Linked DNA regions of Homo sapiens: regions 2, 3, 4 and 5 are each reported to be linked to region 1. The links are microRNA targets in miRTarBase. Many come from high-throughput screens and were not tested one by one. Region 1 holds a microRNA gene; each other region holds the end of a gene's coding sequence.

Region 1 (4,148 bases):
TTTGAAAGCTGTATGACATCATTATTCACTTTTGAAAAACTTTTTTTCAAGAAAACAAGTATACTTTTAATGTAATTACAATGCTTCCAAAAATCTCCTTTTAAAGCTATATACAAATAATTTTAAACAATTTTTTATTTTTATATTTATCAAGTGTGGCAACCAAATAAAGGCTTTGTCACATTTTATACTTTTCTACAGTTTCACACTAGTATAATTTTTTTATGTATAGAAACGTTGGAGGTGTTGGGAACAGCACTGTCACATCTTTCAGGTTTGTAGAGTTCCTCTTCAGCATGAATTATTGCCATGTCTCTTAAGAATTGAGAACTTATGGCTAGGAATGGAGGCTCATGCCTGTAATCCCAGCACTTTAGGAGGCCAAAGTGGGTGGATCAACTGAAGTCAGGAGTTTGAGACGAGCCTGGCAAATATGGCAAAACCCCATCTCTACTAAAACTACAAAAATTAGCTGGGTGTCATTGTGGGTACCTGTAATCCCAGCTACCCAGGAGACGAAGGTTGCAGTGAGCCAAGATCATGCCATTGCACTCCAGCCTGGGTCACAATAGTGAAACTGCATCTCAAAAAAAGAAAAAAAAAATTGAGAACTTGTTATAGGCTTTGCCAAATTCTTCACACCTGTAGGGTTTCTGTCCAGTATGAATTATGTGTAATAAGTGTTGAGAACTTCCTTACAAAGAGGTTTGTCAGCCTGGTGCAGTGGCTTGTGCCTGTAATCCTGGCAATTTGGGAGGCTGAGATGGGTGGATCACTTGAGGTTGGCAGCTGAAGACCAGCCTAACCAACATGGAGAAACCCCATCTGTACTAAAAATACAAAATTAGCCAGGTGTGGTGGTGCATGCCTGTAATCTTAGCTACACAGGAAGGCTGTGGCAGGAGAATCGCTTGAACCTGGGAGATGGAGGTGAAGGTGAGCCAAGATTGCGCCATTGCACTCCAGCCTGGACAACAAGAGTGAAACTCCATCTCAAAAATAAATAAATAAATAAATAAATAAATAGATAAATAAATAAATAAAGCTTTGTTACAGTATTGGTTTCTGTCCACTATGAATTCTCTTATGTTTATTGAAGTCTGAGGACCAGTTAAAAGCTTTGCCACATTCTTCACATTTGCAAGGTTTCTCTCCAGTATGAATTGTCTTATATTCACTTAGAGTTGAGGATGCAGTAAAGGCTTTGCCACATTCTTCACATTTGTAAGGTTTCTCTCCAGTATGAGTTCTCCTATGTTTATGGGGGCTTGAGGACCATGTAAAGGTTTTTATACCATTTATAGCATTTCTCTCCAGTATGAATTGTCTTATGTATAGTAAGGTGTGAAAAATGGTTGAAGGCTTTGCCACATTCTTCACATTTGTAGAGTTTCTCTCCAGTATGAATCTTCTCATGTTCACTAAGGGTTGAGGATAAAATAAAGGCTGTGCCACATTTATCACACTTGTATGGTTTCTCTCCAGCATGAATTTTCTTATGCCTAGTAAGGTGTGAGGAATGGGTGAAAGCTTTGCCATATTCTTCACATTTGTAGGGTTTCTCTCCAGTATGAATCTTCTCATGTTTACTAAGGGTTGAGGATGAAATAAAGGCTTTGCCACATTTATCACACTTGTATGGTTTCTCTCCAGTATGAGTTTTGTTATGTGAAGAAAGGGTTGCAGGATGTTTAAAAGCTTTGCCACATTCTTTACATTTGTAGGGTTGCTCTCCAGTATGAGTTATCTTATGAATAGCAAGCTGTGAGGGCCAGTTAAAGGCTTTGCCACACTCTTCACATTTGTAGGATTTCTCTCCAGTATGGATTATCTTATGTTCAGTAAGCGTAGAGGAATACTTAAAGCCATTGCCACATTCTTCACATTTGTAGGGTTTCTCTCCAGTATGAGTTATCTTATGTGTAGTTAGGTGTGAGGACCATCTGAAGGCTTTGCCACATTCTTCACATTTGTAGGGTTTCTCTCCAGTATGAATCTTCTCATGTTTACTAAGGGTTGAGGAAAAAATAAAGGCTTTGCCACATTTATCACACTTGCATGGTTTCTCTCCAGTATGAGTTTTCTTATGTGAAGAAGGGGTTGTGGGATGGTTAAAAGCTTTGCTGCATTCTTTACGTTTGTAGGGTTGCTCTCCAGTATGAGTTATCTTATGAATAGCAAGCTGTGAGGACCAGTTAAAGGCTTTGCCACACTCCTCACATTTGTGGGATTTCTCTCCAGTATGAATTATCTTATGTGTAGTAAGGGTACAGGAGTACTTAAAGGCTTTGCCACATTCTTCACATTTTTAGGGTTTCTCTCCAGTATGAGTTATCTTATCTGTAGTAAAGGTTGAGTACCAGTTAAAGTCTTTGCCACATTCTTCACATTTGTAGGGTTTCTCTCCAGTATGAATTTTCTTATGTGTAGTAAGGGTTGAGGACTGGTTAAAAGATTTGCCACATTCTATATGTTTCAAAGGTTTTTTTACAGTACGTCTTCTGTCTGTTTGAATTTGAAAATTGATGAAAGACTTTCACATATTTATCACATTGAAATATTTTGCAATGGGTAGTTGTCAAGCATTGGTTAAGCCCATTATAACCTCTTTTTTGCACCTTACACTCATCCACACTTTCACATCCTTTTTTTAACTGTAAATTGCCATGTCCACATTTTTTATATCTTCTCAGTATCACTTTTTGAAAAGAATCTTTTATGTTCTGCTCTAGCCAAAGTTCTTGGGCAAAATGAGAACAAATAACTGAAAGAGACAATAAAAACACAACACTTCAACTGCTAGACTCAGATAAATATATTTTACAAATCTAACCTATAAAATTTCACAGACTACCTAAGGAAGATGACATGGCAAAATACCACAAGCTGTAATTTCTTCCTGGACATATAAATGTAACAAAAACATACTGACCAAAATACAATTTGTAAAAAATGTATAAGTGAATTAAGTGTGTGAAGGGTCCCAGGTGAGCACAATGCAAAGAGCCACATAGAAGATAAAGAAAAGCCTGTTACTTATACCCAACACAGCTCTTCCATATCTCCAGTATAACTCTGTGCCTTTAAAAGTAAATTATTGGCCTGGTGTGGTGGCTTGTGTCTGTAAACCCAACACTTTGGGAGGCAGATGTGGGTGAATCACTTGAGGTCAGGAGTTCAAGACCAGCCTGGCCAAGATGGTGAAACCCCATCTCTACTAAAAATACAAAAAATTAGCCAGGCTTAGTCATGGGCACCTGTAATCTCAGCTACTGGGGAGGCGGAGGCATGAGAATTGCTGGAACCCAGGGGGTGGAGGTTGCAGTAAGCTGAGATTGCACCACTGTACTCTGGCCTGGGTACAGAGTGAGACCCCACCACAAAAAATAAAAATTAAAAAAAAAAAGTTAATTGCCAACCAGGCATGATGGCTCATGCCTGTAATTCCAGCAATTTGGGTGAACAAGATGGAGGACAACCAGAGGTGATCAGCCTGACCAACATGGTGAAACCTCATCTCTACTAAAATACAGAAAATTAGCCAGGGGTGGTAATAGGTACCTGTAATCCTAGCTACCTGGGAGGCTAAGGCAGGATAATTGCTTGAACTCTGGAGGCAGAGATTGTACTGAGCCAAGGTCATGCCTCTGCACTCCAGACTAGTTAATAGAGTGAGGCTCTGTCTCACACATACACACAAAAATGTAAATTGCCAACTCCTGGTTTCTTTTTTAAAAAACAAGAAAAATATTGACACATACATCTTTATTTCTGGCTTCTAGGGGCTTTTTTAGACACTAGTTGATATGTCCCATGACACAAAATGCCAAAAAAAATGGTGATATATGTTAGAATGACACTTTGAGTCTGAAGGTAAATTATAGAGAAGCAGAGAAACTGCAGTAACCCAAACAGGGAATGGGTGTAGTGAATGATTACTTATTATTAACTAAACAATAAACATAAAATTTTAAACAAGACACACCTTAAAAACATGTTTGAGGAATTCTCAGAATCTAGAGTCAAGACAATTGATTTCAGACTATGCCAGGACAGAGCCATATTATAAAGACTGTAACAGGTAGCTTTTTGTTAATGTCCTAATCTCAATCAAAGGTTATAATGTATACCAAATATTAGAGCAACAT
Region 2 (4,148 bases), not on the chromosome of region 1:
AAAGTCAGGAAACAACAGATGCTGTAGAGGATGTGGAGAAATAGGAACGCTTTTACACTCTTGGTGGGAGTATAAATTAGTTCAACCATTGTGGAAGACAGTGTGGCAATTCCTCAAGGATCTAGAACTAGAAATACCATTTGACCCAGCAATCTCATTACTGGGTGAATACCCAAAGGATTATAAATCATGCTACTATAAAGACATGTGCACTCCTATGTTTATTGAGGCACTATTCACAATAGCAAAGACTTGGAACTAACCCAAATGTCCATCAATAATAGACTAGATAAAGAAAATGTGGCACATATACACCAAAGAATACTATGCAGCCATAAAAAAGGATGAGTTCTTGTCTTTTGCAGGGACATGCATGAAGCTAGAAATTGTGATTATCAGCAAAATATCACAAGGACAGAAAACCAAACTCCGCATGTTCTCACTCTTAAGTGGGAGTTGACCAATGAGAACACATGGACACAGGGAGGGGAACATCACACACCGGGGCCTGTTGTGGGGTAGGAGGCTGGGGGAGGGATAGCGTTAGGAGAAATACCTAATGTAAATGATGAGTTGATGGGTGCAGCAAACCAACATGGCACACGTACACCTATATAACAAACCTGCACGTTGTGCACATATACCCTAGAACTTAAAGTATTTTTTTTTAAAAAAGATTATTTCTTTGAATAAGTGTTCTACTCTTTGCTCCTTCTCAAGTCCCTCTTTAAGGCCAATGAATCTTTGATTTTCTCTTTTCAGGCCCTCTTCTAGATCTCTTAAGCATTCTGTGTTCCTGCTCATTCTTCTTTTCTTTTTTCTCCTCTGACTGTATTTTCAAATAGCTTGTTTGCATGCTCACTAATTCTTTCTTCTGCTTGATCAATTCTACTGAGACCCACTAATGTATTTTCCAGCTCCAGCATTTGATTTTTTTCTCTTACTTCAGTAATCTTGTTAAATTTCTGATATATTTCTGAATTGTTTCTCTGTGTTTTCTTGAAGTTCATTGAGCTTTCTCAAAATAGCTATTCTGAATTCCCTGAGAGGTTACACGTCTCCATCTCTCCAGGGTTGGTCACTGAGTGCCTTACTTGGTCCATTTGTTGAGGTCATATTGGCTTCAATGTTATTGATACTGTTGATGTTTGTCAGTATCTGGGCATTGAAGGATAAGGTATTTATTCCAGCCTTTGCAGTCAGGTCTTGTTTGTACCTGTCCTTCAGAGGACTTTCCAGGAATTCAAAGTGGGCTGACGAGTTCCCTAAGCCAGTGATCACTGCAGCCATTTTTGTACTACAGGGCACCCTAGGCCCAGGTACACTGCAATTCTTACCGATTCCTAGGTCCCCAGCCCTGTGGACTTGGGGGAAGATCAGGGATTGTTCTCCGCATTCCCAGGTAAAGCCCCTAGCTTACTTCCCTTTCTTTCCCCCAAGCAAGAGGAACCTCTCTTCAGGCTGCACTGCCTGGAGTGTGGGGAGGGGTGATACAGGCATTCCCATAGCTGCTGCAGCTGCTGCCATCATACTGGCTCACACCACAAGTCCAGGGTGTTCCAGACCTATGCAGCATCAGGGCTTGCCCAAGGACTGCGGCCACTACAGCCTGCCTGCCACTGAAATTTATTTGAAGCCCAAGAAATTTCCAGTGATAAAGCCGGCCAGAACTTTGCTGGGTTCTTCCTGCTGGGGCAGCTGGTTCCCTTGTGGCCCAGGGTGGGTCTAAATGCTTCTTCTGTGGGCACCAGCCTGGAATCAAGTGCTGTGGGGTTCTGCCCAGTGCCGTGTATCACTATGGCAAGACTGGTACTAAGTTTCAATATAAAGTCTCACACTTTCCCCCTTGTCCCCAAGCCATTAGATTCTCTCTCAGAGAATTTCCTGTGGTTGGGGGAGAGGTGTCATAGGCAATGCAAGACTGTCCTTCCTCCCTTCTTCAATGCATCTTTTCTTGTTAGCAAGTTAAAAGCGGGTGCTATGATCTCTCACCTGGCTAGCCCTTGTGAAAGTGTTTTCTTACATAGATAGTTGTTTAATTTGATGTTCCTTCAGAGAGACCATTGCTGGAGAATTCTATTCTACCATCTTACTCCACCTTCTACCTGTTTTTATTTTTTAAATGTTTCTAGTACATAATTGTGAAGTGATAGCTTATTTTAATCTTGGGAATCAAAAGCATGTAGCTAAGAACTTTTCCCAAGGAATATTTTAAAATTTTTATATCAATGTTTATGGAATGACATACTTTTTGATTCAAGGTTCTTAAATGTAGTTTTAGTTTTGATTCAATGTTATAGAACACTGTTTTTTAAACTGTGATCTGAAGCCCACATGTAATGGAATCACCTGGGGTGCTTATATTAAAAAAATGCAGATTCTAGGGCTCACACCAACTAAATCTCCTGGGATTGGAGACCAGGAGGTAGCTCCTATAATCTCCACAGCTGCTTCTCAGGCACACCAAGTTTAAGAACCATTCTTTCATATTTTCAGACTGGGGATTCTTACAAAATGACAAAGAAGGAAAACCTTAATCTTTTAAAGTTAGAGTTCAAGCATTAGACTATATGCTTCTTAAACACAGTTTGTCTTTCCCATTTTCTCTTTCCAGTTCTTTATACTGTCAAGGGATTGGTGCAGAAATGGGAAACAAAGCAGTGAAAGAAAAACTATTTATTTCTTTATACACATTTTGCTTTAACAATCACCAAAAAGACTTTCATTTTCTGTCACCCACCCTGTCCACCAGTTATGTTGGCCTTCAATATATGGCGTTAGCAACATATATAAATCTATATCATATATTTATACACACAAACACATTCTACCAGCACTGTGAAGACACAGACTAGGCTTTACTAGGCTTGGGGCCTCTCCCATGCCACTTAAAAATGAGCACAGGTTTGCTCTATGCAAGAATTTCAACAGAGTTGGTCTGGCCATCAGTCTGCAATTTCCCCGAGATAAGATAGGGTGACAAAATGGGACAGCAACTTTGAAGTGAGGTCAGTCCAATTTGGATATCATAGAAGAAAAGAAATAGGATGTGCTAGGTTAAGCCTGAGATGGTATCTGGGAAGTCACCACATTCATGATGTGAACTCAAAGAACACAGGTGCTACAGTGCAGACCAAGGCCCAGCCTGACTCGACCCAACAGGGTCAGGTGTGGATCTGTGAGTAGTGCTCACTGAGCCCCCGCCAGCAGTGTCCGGCAGGGCACCGCTGCTCAGTAGTGTGCTTTTAGAACCTGCCAGAGGAGCTCCAGCATTGGGACCACGTGCCCCTTTCATCGGAATCAGGGTCCTATATTCACTGAGTTTTCCATCTCAGGACAGCTGATGAGGCAAGAAATGTGCTCTTGCTAGTTCCCAAGCTGCTGGGGCTGTTGAGAGGCAGGATCACAAAACCTTCTGTGCAAACTACGCATCTTTTTCTTAGTGCTGGGCCAAGTGGACCTTGGCTAATCGTATTCCATAGCCGTCAGAAAGGCTTTCTGCCTTTCTCCCAGCTCCACCAGGATACATCTCTGACTCCCTCTTCTGGACCCTCCCGTGGACTTGGAGGAATGAGGCCCAGATGCTCCTCAGCAGATAGGTAGCTGCACAAAAGGGGGACAGGCCCACCTTTCCTGCTGTTTTAAGGACTTCTGGTGGCTGCGCTTCTTGCATGGTTCCTGGAAGGCAAGGGTCACAAGGCTGGAGTACATGGCAGAGCCCTTAGGGATTTCACCTGCAGACAAACATAAAACAAACCAAATCAGTGTATATTGCCAGGCCCTACTGATGGCTACCTGAAGCTGGAGTGAGAGCTACGTGGTGACCAAAGCCAGGAGCACGGTGAGAGCCAGTTAAGAGGATGAGCTAAGAGCATGCGCTGCAGTCTGGAGGAGCAACAGGTGCCCGAGGTTAGGGGGAGCCTCCCCACCTCCCTGTGTGCTGAGATCCCTGCTCCAATTCACTGCACACTGGGTGGCTGGATCCTACCACTCCCCCTTCAGGGGCCAGGTGACTCTCCAAATCACTTTGTCTCAGCAGAAAGAGGCCTTTGCCATGTCCACCCAAGAAAGAAGTGCTTAGCATGAAACATGCACATATAGAAACAGCCTGTTTGTAGGAAGAAGAGGACATTTTGCTGGGAAGCCCT
Region 3 (4,000 bases), not on the chromosome of region 1:
AACTCCCACAGACAACGGCCCTGTAGGGAAGCGACACACGGGCACAGCCACCGTGTTCGTCACTGTCCTGGATGTGAATGACAACCGGCCCATCTTTCTGCAGAGCAGCTATGAGGCCAGCGTCCCTGAGGACATCCCTGAAGGCCACAGCATCTTGCAGGCAGGTGGCCCGTGGCCTCTGGGGCAGGTGGTGGGCTGGGGGAGGCGGAGCCACACACGGCCCTGAGGGCACATGCTCAGTGGCACCAGAGGCGGAAGCAGGTGGGGGCCCAGGGTGGGTCCGCTGCTCTGGAAGGTGCTGTGGGGAAAGGGGGACCCAGGCCCTCTCCCATCCCAGGGAGTGTGGGCCCCCAGGTTGCAGAGCTGAGGATAGGGCTCTGGCTCCCCACAAACAGGAGGAAGACTTGGCCTCCCCCTGCATATCTCCCGCCCCACCCAGAAGGGCCTTTCAGAGTAGCGGGGAGAAAGAGACGTCACAATTTCCCGGAAAGGAGTTGAGAAGAGAGCCAGGGCCCAGCAAGGCCCAGAACAGAGCTGCTTTCACAGAGCCCTTGGCCGAGGCTCCCCTCTTGGGAAGTAAACAGGCACAAGAAGAAAGGGCTCCTTTGCCCAGGGAGCAGGCGCAACAGCTCCAAGGCTCAGAGGGAGAGAAGGGAGGACCCTGAAAACAATTTGGGTGTGCACCCACACCTCTGCCCAGAGGCCTCAGTTGCTGGGTGGGGAGGGAGGCCCGGAGTGAATGAGTCTCTTTACCAACTATGGGGTTTCCGACTCGGAGGCTGAGCCAAACAGGGAATCTGGGCCTGCCCACTGGGGCAGGCTCCCGGGCTTGGGAGGGACAGAAGCGTGGGAGGCTGGCAATGCTCCCCTCCCTGCATCGGGACCAGGAGGCGGGCAGGAAAGGGCTGGGGAGCAGGGAGCTGACTCCCAGAAACACAGAGAGCCCAGAAAGCCCTGAGGATTTGCGAGAGTGTGGTGGCTAGCTCCAGAAGGAGGAAGTAGAGGGTTCTCTCGATCAGGGCCTCAGCTTGTGAGGACTTGGAGCATACCCCCCTGGCCTGGTGCCTGAAACCCAATTGAGAGCCCTCCCCCTCCTGGACTTTTCCTTCTTCAGGCCTCAGGGCAGCCTCAACCCCCACCCCAACCTCCAGGAAGACAGTGCCTAGTGGCCAGCAGGGCCTGCTGGTGAGGTGGATGGCTACAGGCTGAATCCAGCCTAGGATTTGCAGGGAGGCCCCAGGGGAAGCAAACCAGGAAGAGGTTACTGAGCAGGAAGGGAGGAAGGAACAAAACCCTTAGGGAGGAGGCCTGCCCCACTTTCTAAACCCAAAGACTTGGTTTCTATTTACACAATACTACTCTTACTGAAATCCTAGAGCCAGCGAGTTAATATAGGGCAGCCCTGAGTTCTCCCATTTCTCAGGGAGAAATGCAGCGTCTCAGGATGACTTCTCCAAGGTCCTCTTGGTAAGTTTCTTGTGAAGCCGGACTCACTTTTTGAGATCAGATTGACTTGGAAGGAAGGGACAGTGGGCTTCTCCAATAGAGCCTGCTTGGAGAGAAATCTTTCTAGAGTCATCTGAGGGAAGATGAGGCTCTGTGTTATGCCAGCTTCCACCAAGACTCCTGCCTCAGAGGGTGGGGACACACCCAGGCTGGGCCACGCTTCACTCTGTACACAGAAGCCTCATACTTCTGTGCACAGAACTGGGGAGTCAAAGTGAGGGGCTGGACAATGTCTGGCTCTCTGCAAGCTCCCAAGCTGGTAGGAAAGAGAAGACATAGACAAAAAGGACCCATGCTGCCAAGAGAATGTTCCTTTTCCTCCCCAAGAGAGGTAGGAGACAGTAGGGGCGGCTCCAGGCAGGAGGGCTTCACAGAGTGGGTGTGTGTGAAGCATAAGCCACAGTTAGTGGGTGACAGGTCTTTCAGTTTTCCTGGAGTTTTGGATCAAGATGAGGCTAGAAAGATTAATTGGAGCCAGCTCCCAGAGGGCACTGCACACTGCGCTGAGGAGCTTTGGCTATATCCATTTGGCATTAGGGAGCCAGTGAAGGTTTTGGAGCTGGGGAGTGGCAAGCCAGAGCTCACTCCTTGGGGAGACGTGGCTGGCTGCACTGTGGGTCACAGCAGGATGGGGGTGGGGCAGCTTTGTGGTGGGATCCTGGCCAGCTGACTGGGACAGGAGCTGGGCAGCCCAGGTCCTCCCTCTGCCCACCCTTCAAATTTGGGACCTGACCAAAGTGTTTAACCCTCGCGTTGTGAGGAGAGGTCAAGGGTTTGGGATTCTGAGAAGCCCATCCTGGGGTGGGACTGCTTTGACGGGTCATCAGCAAAGCACTCACCAAAACCACAGATAGCATCCCTAGTGTGGGCAGGACTTGGGACCCCACAGCTGTCCTGGAGAGGTCCAGACCATCCCACCCTCGGGGAGGCTGCCGCTTTCCCTGGGTGAGGTGTGGAGCTGCTGTGAGCTGTCCTCCTCCGAGTCCAGGTGGCATCACCTCCAGCTGCTGGAAATGCCCTGCCTCTTGCCACTCTGTCACAGCACCCGCCCTGGCCTCTGAAGGGAGCCTCCTCGATCATCTTCAATCCCTTCCTGATTGATCCCAACGTGGGTGCCCTGAAGAGGGGCCACCAAGACGGCTGCCAAGACCATGCTTGGAGAGCCCTGTTTGCTCCTCCTCCCAGCTGGCACCCAGGCATCTGTTCCACCAGGAGGGAGGCAGCTGCTCCCACAGGGCACCAGGCAGATGCTGGCAGCACCCGGGAAACCCAAGGAAGAGAGCCCCGAGGTTTTGCCCCAGCACTGGGCCAGCACAGATGCCAGGACAGTGTCTTGGCCCCGGTGTAGGCTGAGCATTTCACTTGACTAAAGGGAACCTTTGCCATTTGGCAACTTCTCCATGCTGGGCTTTGGCACCTGGAGGGCAAGGCTTCTGTGGCGAGCGAGGGTGCTGCTTCTAGGAGGTGGTTACGAGCCCCAGGTTGTACCCTGTGGAGCCTCAGGCCAAAGGCCCAGATGACCACGAGTGCACATCTCTTGACCAGAAGTCTTTCATCAAGCAGCAGCGAGGGGGTCTGCAGAGAGGAAGGTGCTCTTCTGAGGATCATCTTTGGGAAAGGGCGCTGGCCTGGGCATGCAAGGAGCTTCGGGGGGTGAGTGTGTGTCCCAGACTGCTTGGGCCACTGTCTTCCTGCAGCCTGCAGCACCGGTCTCTGAAGCAGGAGGATCTACAGGTAGACCTAGGGGGATGTGGGGGCATGTTTGTGGACACCCCATTACATCTTGGTAGATTCCATGTAGTCACAGTGGCTGCGGTTGTCCTCGGGGCCCGGCAGGGGCTGTCGAGGGACGGTGGGCCGGCCATGGCGGAAGCTGTGCAGGGAGAGGCGCAAGGAGCCCAGGCGCTTCCAGAGCCGGAGCTGGGGCTCACTGGGGCTCCCAGGGTGGTGGGGCATGCACTCGTGAGCCCTGCGGCGGCTCGGGTCCAGCGCGGCCGGCTTGCAGAGCGTCATGAACAGCAGACAGGTGGCCAGCAGGAGGAAGATGCAGGCCAGGGCGATGAGCATGGGGAGGGGGTCAGTTGCCTCTGCAAGGGTCCCGGGAGTGACGGGAGCTGAGAGAAAGGCGAGGGGGCTGATGGCTGGGGAGCTGGCGAGGCTGGGGCCCTCTGTGCTCATGGCTCCTGCAACAGCAACAAGACAGAAGCTCAAAGGCAGATCAGCTGGACCCAGGGCAGCGGGTATAGGGAAGACTTACCTAGGGAATGTGGATGGGGGCAAGGCACTGTTAAACTGGACAGCATCATGGCCACATCACAGGTTAAGACAGCAAGGTCCAGAGACATCACAAGTCTAAGTGTACACACAGCTGAGCAGTGATGGAGCTGGGCCCAAGCTCAGGCCCTCTTCCTGTTCCACCCTGTGCCCATCTGCCATGCAGACAAGAGGGCGGTGGCCTGTCCGCATTTTCAAATCAATCCTCATGAATCATCAC
Region 4 (4,148 bases), not on the chromosome of region 1:
CACCGCGCCTGGCCTGTTTTGAGATGGAGTCTCACTTTGTCACCCAGGCTGTAGTACACTGGTGTGATGTTGGCTCACTACAACCTCTGCCTCCCGCGTTCAAGCGACTCTCCTGCCTCAGCCTCCCAAGTAGCTGGGATTACAGGTGCACACCACCACACCCAACTAATTTTTTATTTTTAGTAGAGACGGGGTTTCTCCATGTTGGCCAGGCTGGTCTCGAACTCCTGACCTCAGGTGATCCACCCACCTTGGCCTCTGGAAGTGCTAGGATTACAGGTGTGAGCTACCGTGCCCGGCCATTTCATTGTTCTTAGTGGTGAAAATGTACATCGAAATTTAAGAATATACTTTTATTCAACGAAGAGTTTGTTTTTAGTTTTTTGAGACAGAGTCTGGCTCTGTTGCCCAGGCTGGAATGCAGTGGCACAATTTCATCTCATGGCAACCTCCACCTTCTGGGTTCAAGCAATTCTTCTGCCTCAGCCTCCCAAGTAGCTAGGACTATAGGCGTGTGCCACCACACCTGGCTAATTTTTCATATGTTTAGTAGAGACGGGGTTTCACTGTGATGGCCAGGCTGGTCTTGAACTCCTGACTGCAGGTGATCCACCTGCTTCGACCTTCCAAAGTGCTGGGATTACAGGCGTGAGCCACCTTGCTCGGCCAGAGTTTTTTAATGTAAGTACTTCCATGAAATAAATCCCAAATGTGACATTTAGGTTTCTCCAATACAATTTATTATTATTACATTTTAGCTTGCATTTACTAAGTGTCATGGAAATATTATACTCAAAATAACAGAGCTCCAGAGAAAGACAGTTAACTAAGAAAGAACAGTTTCACTTTCTTAGCTTGTCAACTCCTAGTTAGCCTGCTTGCCTCCGCACCACAGATGCTTGTCTTCTTGTGGTTGTTACCACAAGCCAAAGCTTGAATTTACATGGGCATCAGGCCAAGTCTGTAAATCCGTGAAGACAGGCCATCAACTGCATTGAGGGTACAGCCTTGCTGAAGGGTCCTTTCTTGACAGTCAATGATGATGAATCTGGAAAAACTGTCTATTCTCTTAGGAGAAGAAAATATACCCCACCTAAAGTCGCAGCTACCATTAACAAAAAAAAAAATTAGCAAAGGGAAAGAATCAATGGTAAGGACAGTAAATATACTCTGAGAATAGAGTAAGTACAATTTACACACGCTGGAGTAAATAGTGAAGCTTCTACTGAGTTCTACTGAGTCTAAGCTCTTTTATTTTTAAAATTCTGATAAAAATTTACTCAATTACATTTTATACATTAATATTTAGTGAATTTGTCCAAAAAGGCTATGTTTAATTTATGTGTAAAAATAACAAAAGATGTATCAGTCAGTCTCTGGGCAATAAGAAAGGAAGAAAGCCTTGCTAGAAATAATAAATAATCTCACGCAAAAGGCCAGGTGACATAAGAATACTACAATAATCAATATGTTTTCTTTGTATTTACAATAAAATCCATCTGTTAACACTGTGATAGAAAAAATAATCAGTCCACATCATGTAATAAAAACAGGCTTTGAGGATGATTATACCTCTTATAATAAAAACATACAAGGATTTCTCACAGCTAAAGTACTTTTCAACTTTGACAACTAATAACAGTCATGGGTGAAGGTAAAACTGACAGAGTACTTTAGATCAGCTATGTCCTACAGTCAAGGAATCAAGGGCATTACCCATTTACCAAGCAGCAAAAAGCACTTTCATTTTTCCAGAACTATTTAAATACAGTAGTTGCCATGTGATCAGTTAATTTTACTTTGTGAGTTAGATAAAGTAAAGACTAAATTGGGAAACTGCAATAAGTAATCAAAAGTAGCTCCAAACAACAAAGCCATCAATAGAAACAAAAGGCATTTTTCTAGGTGTATCATGCATAAAAAGAATAATTACATAATATTATTAAATATATTCCTTAATGACCAGATTAATAAATGAGGTAAAATTTAGTCATTGGAACAAATAAACTATATTTAATCACTTGTGTTTTGCTGTCACTGTTTAAAATAATTAACTTAATGTCTAAAAACTACATACTCTTGAATGTTTGCTTTTTAGAGCCCCTTGTGGGATATTAAAGAGCCATAACAAATTATCTGAATATAAATTATCAATACCAGGCTGGGCACAGTGGCTCATGCCTGTAATCCCAGCACTTTGGGAGGTGGAAGTGGGCATATAGCCTGAGGTCAGGAGTTCAAGACCAGCCCGGCCAACATGGTGAAACCCCGTCTCTACTAAAAACACAAAAATTAGCTGGGCACGGTGGCACACACCTGTAATCCCAGCTACTCAGGAGGCTGGGCCAGGAGAATCGCTTGAACCCAGGAGGCGGAGTTTGCAGTGAGCCGAGATCACACCACGCACTCCACTCCAGCCTGGGCAACAGCAAGACTCCGTCTCAAAAAAAAAAAAAATTATCAATACCAAATATGATACAGTTATGTAATACCCATTTTGCATATGCACAGTGGAAATACTGTAAAAACTACAAGATGAAAGAAAACCGACTGGCCAGAACTTTAAATTTCAGACTAATCCATGATAAAAATCTAGATGATAAAAAACAAAAATAAAATTAACAAAATAGATAACTTGATATCCTTTCCATATTCAGTCGTCTACTAACATGCCATCTCCAAACAAATCCATTACCTCAAAAGAGGAAGAAAATGGGCCAGGCGCGGTGGCTCACGCCTGTAATCCCAGCACTTTGGGAGGCCAAGGCGGGCAGATCACGAGGTCAGGAGATCGAGACCATCCTGGCTAACACGGTGAAACCCCGTCTCTACTAAAAATACAAAAAAATTAGCTGGGCATGGTGGCGGGCGCCTGTAGTCCCAGCTACTCAGGAGGCTGAGACAGGAGAATGGCGTGAACCCAGGAGGTGGAGCTTGCAGTGAGTGGAGATCGCGCCACTGCACTCCAGCCTGGGCGGCAGAGCTAGACTCCGTCTCAAAACAGAAAAAAAAAAAAAAAAAAAAAGAGGAAGAAAATGTAAATCTCTTTTTAAGTTTTCCAGTTTATGCTCTGAAAAAAGCCTAACATTAACAAAACCTGCAACACTACTTTAAAAAATCTAGAATTTAAAAATATCTATTTTAGTTATTAAAGATAAAAAATATTCAATTAAATTGAATGAATTAGCTGGATCAACAATTTCCTACCACACTACTATTATCTACAGCTACCCTTGGTATAATAATTTATAAGATGTCTAAGATGTCTACCTTAACTATTGATAGCACTTTTCACAGTATACCAATTTCCATTTTTACTTTCTTCTCCCCTTGTCACTTAAATGTATTACTTTAACTATCTGATAGGAAATTTTATTTTACAAATTCCTTGTTTAATTACTGAAGAGGTGATTTTAAAACATAAATGGATGCACCTGTTAATCCTGAGATGGTGATGACAGCAAAACTAAAAATCAGATGATTATTTTTACTCAAATTTCTGCTTTAGTTTTTTTTGGAAGATGGCTGGCAGAATAGAAAGAACAGCCAAGATCATCAGAATAAATATTGAGTTCCAGGAAACAGCTTCTCCTGCTGTTGTAAGTTGATACAGTGTTGTTCCTGCCTTAATGGCTACAAAAGAAGGAGGTGCGACACCTGAAATAAAATATAAAAAGATACAGTAAAAACCACCGCAATTGTTTTTAAAAAATTAAAATGTTCTGTGTGCATAAAGTTTCTTAAAACAACACAGCTATTTCCATTTTGGAAAAAAAATTAAGAATTTAAAGCTCAAGTTTATTTCCATATAAAGAATTCAATCTTTCCTAATCACCTCTTAAGGATAATGATTTTTTTTTTTTTTGAGACGGAGTTTCGCTCTTGTTGCCCCCGCTGGAACACGATGGCGCGATCTTGGCTCACTGCAACCTCCGCCTCCCGGGTTCAAACAATTCTCCTGCCTCAGCCTCCCGAGTAGCTGGGATTACAGGCATGTGCCACCACACCCGGCTAATTTTGTATTTTCAGTAGAGATGGGGTTTCTCCATGTTGGTCAGAATGGTCTCAAACTCCCGACCTCAGATGATCCGCCCACCTCAGCCTCCCAAAGTGCTGGGATTACAGGCATGAGCCCCTGCACCTGGCCA
Region 5 (4,148 bases), not on the chromosome of region 1:
CGGCAGAGCCAGACTCTGTTGGGGGTGGGGTGGGGGGGAAAGAGAAAAATAATACTTCTAATATGTTGCAAACAAGACCTTTACCAATCCAAGTGTTAAAAAGAAGCCTGTTGCTACAGTGCCATTTACAATTAGGTTTGTTTATATGAAGCAAATTTTACATGTGGACTGGGAATTAGAAGACTTTTTGTTTCAGTCTGCCTGTTTTACTTTGTTTTTTTCTGAGTCTCGGCTCTACTGCTAACTAGCTATATGATTTTGGCTAAGGCACTTGAAATCCATGGGCCACAAGATGATGCAATGGGAAATGAATTTCATCCTTTCTTACAGCCTGACAATCTGACAATATTTGCAACCTCTATTTGTTTCAATGGCAAACTGGTTGTGACATGATACATGTGCGAAAGGTGATTTTTTTTGTTCCAAATTAGTATCCTTTTAGGTAAATTCTGTATTGCCCATATGCTGTAATTGTAGTTAAAATATTAGTGTTAATAAAATAAAAAATTTAATAATGTCACGTTAGAGTGGTAAGGGCTTAGGGGTAGTTATAGGTAGTATTAGGAGTAGTTAGAAATTACTTATTTTTGTAGGCTTGTTTCCAAGTTATCAGCAGTTGAAAGGGATGTTTCTACAGTACGTGGTAAATGGCAATAAAACAGGATAAAGGAAAGATCAAAACAAGGCTGTGGACCAAACTATAAATCCAAGAGCTTTGATTATTATTTTTTTTTTTTTTGGAGACAGTCTTACTCTGTCGCCCAGGCTGGAGTGCAATGGCGCAATCTCTGCTCACTGCAAGCTCCGCCTCCTGGGTTCAGGTCATTCTCCTGCCTCAGCCTCCCGAGTTCCCAAGTAGCTGGGACTACAGGCACCTACCACCACGCCCGGCTAGTTTTTTGTATCTTTAGTACAGACAGGGTTTCACTGTGTTAGCCAGGATGGTCTCCATCTCCTAACCTCGTGATCCGCCCGCCTCAGCCTCCCAAAGTGCTGGGATTACAGGCGTGAGCCACCGCGCCCAGCCAGCTTTGACTATTTTTATACTCCTCACAATTCTCAAGCACTTCTTAGGCAGAGCACAAAAACAAAAACAAAAAAAAAAACTTAGAAATATATGAATGCAAGAGATGGGAAGAGGAAAGACCATTTCCCAACTAGCTCAGAGTAGCCTGATCGTAACTCCAAACAGTTCACAAAATTCTCTTAGGCTGAAACTATTCATCTTTCCTAAATGTCCCTCATGTCTGCTAAAATCACTTTCCCAAATGCCTTGTATCTAGGAATCTGATGCCTACTGAGCTTACCTTTTATCAAATTAATAGTGACTCAATCTCCATTACTGGAAAGCAGGCACTTTAACCTTGTAGCTCTAAACAGAAATAGTTTTTACTGATTCAGTTGGAAAACCCAGCAATTTAACAAAAAGGGGGAGGGGCAGCCCAATAGCATTTGGAAAATGTTAAATTTTATTATTTAACATTCTTTACCATTATAGTTACTGCACATAAGACTATTACTACTAAAGGTCACTTCAGAGTCCCTGCAAAATGGCCTGGAATTTTGGCAGCACCCATTTTACACAATATTTCTTTTTCCACAAAATAACAGACATACCAGGAAAATCATTTCAGCTAAAAATATGAGTGAGGTGGTAGAAATATCATCCCTTATAAAGCGCAATGTTAGAATAGTACTTGAGAAAGCAGGATTGTTTTAAGTTCCAAGATTTAACAAACTTACTGTTCAGCATCATATTCAAGCCTAAAAGGAAGATAGGATTTTCAAGATATATTTCCAACTTCTTTAACATGGCACCATGGATGAACTGTTTCTCAGCACTGTGCTGCTTCACTTGGAATTAAGGATGAATTGGGAGGAGACAGTATGACATAGGTGGGTAGGTTGGGTGGTGAGGGGAACCAGTTCTAATAGTCCTCAACTCCACTCCAGCTGTTCCTGTTCCACACGGTCCACTGAGCTGGCCCAGTCCCTTTCACTCAGTGTGTCACCAAAGGCAGCTTCAAGGCTCAATGGCAAGAGACCACCTATAACCTCTTCACCTTCTGCTGCCTCTTTCTGCTGCCACTGACTGCCATGGCCATCTGCTATAGCCGCATTGTCCTCAGTGTGTCCAGGCCCCAGACAAGGAAGGGGAGCCATGGTGAGACTCCAATTCCCAGGCCTTAATCCTTAACCCTAGACCTGTTGCCTCTAGCATCATTTATTTATCTACCTACCTAATAGCTATCTACCAGTCACTAAACCATGGTGAGATTCTAACCATGTCTAGCACCTGATGCTAGAGATAATTTTGTTGAATCCCTTCAATTATAAACAGCTGAGTTAGCTGGACAAGGACTAGGGAGGCAATCAGTATTATTTATTCTTGAACACCATCAAGTCTAGACTTGGTGGCTTCATATTTCTATCATAATCCCTGGGGGTAAGAAATCATATAGTCCCAGGTTGGGAAGGGGAAAACGGTTTGCAACATTCTCCTCCTTGTAGGAGGCGAGCTCTGTCTCACTAGCTATGCCCCTCCATCAATTCACCCTATACTCAGATCAGAAGCTGAGTGTCTGAATTACAGTATATTTTCTAAATTCCTAGCCCCTGCTGGTGAATTTGCCCTCCCCCGCTCCTTTGACAATTGTCCCCGTGTTCGTCTCCGGGCCCTGAGACTGGCCCTGCTTATCTTGCTGACCTTCATCCTCTGCTGGACACCTTATTACCTACTGGGTATGTGGTACTGGTTCTCCCCCACCATGCTAACTGAAGTCCCTCCCAGCCTGAGCCACATCCTTTTCCTCTTGGGCCTCCTCAATGCTCCTTTGGATCCTCTCCTCTATGGGGCCTTCACCCTTGGCTGCCGAAGAGGGCACCAAGAACTTAGTATAGACTCTTCTAAAGAAGGGTCTGGGAGAATGCTCCAAGAGGAGATTCATGCCTTTAGACAGCTGGAAGTACAAAAAACTGTGACATCAAGAAGGGCAGGAGAAACAAAAGGCATTTCTATAACATCTATCTGATCCTAACAGAGTATGTAGGAACAGAATAGTAAGTCTTTAGTGCCATAAGATCTTAACATCTCACTTCTACTCCTGCTCTCCTAGTTCCCCCCAAAAAAGAAATACTGACCAGTGTCTCTACTTTAAACCCTACCTGAAACTTGAGACTATGTCTAATATAGAAACTCACATAACTAGCCCAGGTAACACAGCAAGACCCCATCTCTACAAAAATATTAAAAATTTAGCTGGGCATGGTGGCATGTGCCTGTAATCCCAACTACTAGGGACAGTGAGGCAGAAGGATGGCTTGAGCCCAAGAGTTTGAAGCTGCAGTGAGCTATGATCAGCTGCAATCCACCCTGGGTAACACAGCAAGACTCTATCTCAAAAAAAAGAAAAAAAAGAAATACATAGAGTTCAGTCCCTAGAAGTATCTTCACAATGATCCATACAGCCTTGCTATGCTTTAGAACTTTCAATTTTAGGACAGGAAAGTAACATTAAATGTAGAAAACAAAAATGGAACATTTATTCGCAACTCAAATACTACGCATATACGGTAAGAGATTAAATATAAACACAGCAAGTTCCACCCCAGTCCTATTTGTCCAAGGCTGCATGGTCAAATGGAATCTTGAAGAGAACACCTGGACAACAGAGGACCTGTCAGCGACGTCTCCGGTCTGGACTTCTGCTGCGTCTTCGGCCACCTCTAGGGAAAAAGAAGCAGGGAGAGGAGTCCATTAGAGGGACATAATACTAAGTCCTCATTCTGTTTCGTTCGTATTCCCTTCACCCAGACAGTATTTGCCCTCTTCATTTTACCTCCTCTTGCCTTTTGGTGGACCCCGAACAAAACACCAGTCAACGCTGATGGGCTGTCCCATCAAATCCTGGCCATTGAGTCCCTCCATAGCAGCCTGGGCTTCCTTGTATGTTTCATATTCAACTAGAGTATACCCCTGGGGAAAGTGAAAAGACAGATATGAAAACCCTCCTATTTCCCCAAGTATCACTGAGTATCTTTTTCCTCAAATCTAAACTCAGAAAAATCTACACACTTTAAACAATGAATGTACATCATATATCTCTACTGTATATATACATCATCTCCGTTTCTGTCTCTTTGGCGTG

The links. The annotated mature microRNA hsa-miR-1270 reads CUGGAGAUAUGGAAGAGCUGUGU and lies in region 1 at 3,046-3,068, opposite strand. An mRNA with a match to its seed (bases 2 to 7 or 8) in the 3' UTR can be bound and repressed. Matches are read on the target gene's strand: a 7mer-m8 pairs with bases 2 to 8, a 7mer-A1 pairs with bases 2 to 7 and ends in A, and an 8mer does both.
Region 2: miRTarBase lists PDE4DIP as a target of hsa-miR-1270. The part of its 3' UTR that is shown has no 7-base or 8-base seed match.
Region 3: the mRNA of C10orf105 is a reported target of hsa-miR-1270. Seed matches in the 3' UTR shown: 7mer-A1 at 2,662-2,668 and 7mer-A1 at 1,554-1,560.
Region 4: miRTarBase lists TMEM41B as a target of hsa-miR-1270. Seed matches in the 3' UTR shown: 7mer-m8 at 2,945-2,951.
Region 5: the mRNA of RBM8A is a reported target of hsa-miR-1270. Seed matches in the 3' UTR shown: 7mer-A1 at 738-744.

Annotation. Positions count from the first base shown.
Region 1 is chr19:20,396,275-20,400,422 of GRCh38, forward strand. It overlaps MIR1270 (microRNA 1270), which reads right to left and starts at 3,080; the gene lies at 2,998-3,080. It overlaps LOC124904660 (putative zinc finger protein 826), which reads right to left and starts at 1,739. Exons shown (of 1, transcript XM_047439794.1): 1 at 973-1,739. The coding sequence starts at 1,584. The coding sequence ends at 1,051. It also overlaps the pseudogene ZNF826P.
Region 2 is chr1:149,031,530-149,035,677 of GRCh38, reverse strand. It overlaps PDE4DIP (phosphodiesterase 4D interacting protein), which reads right to left. Exons shown (of 47, transcript NM_001395426.1): 47 at 2,662-3,734. The coding sequence ends at 3,693. Among named protein-coding and RNA genes, the nearest start is that of NBPF9, 70 kb to the left of the region's middle. RefSeq lists an enhancer at 1,704-2,203.
Region 3 is chr10:71,712,654-71,716,653 of GRCh38, forward strand. C10orf105 (chromosome 10 open reading frame 105) reads right to left here. Exons shown (of 2, transcript NM_001164375.3): 2 at 1-3,689. The coding sequence starts at 3,684. The coding sequence ends at 3,283. CDH23 (cadherin related 23) reads left to right here. Exons shown (of 70, transcript NM_022124.6): 28 at 12-160. Among named protein-coding and RNA genes, the nearest start is that of C10orf105, 5.1 kb to the right of the region's middle.
Region 4 is chr11:9,279,937-9,284,084 of GRCh38, forward strand. It overlaps TMEM41B (transmembrane protein 41B), which reads right to left. Exons shown (of 7, transcript NM_015012.4): 7 at 718-3,657. The coding sequence ends at 3,488. Among named protein-coding and RNA genes, the nearest start is that of TRL-CAA5-1, 6.8 kb to the left of the region's middle.
Region 5 is chr1:145,922,202-145,926,349 of GRCh38, forward strand. It overlaps RBM8A (RNA binding motif protein 8A), which reads right to left. Exons shown (of 6, transcript NM_005105.5): 5 at 3,840-3,976; 6 at 1-3,726. The coding sequence ends at 3,681. It also overlaps the pseudogene GNRHR2. Among named protein-coding and RNA genes, the nearest start is that of LIX1L-AS1, 2.6 kb to the right of the region's middle.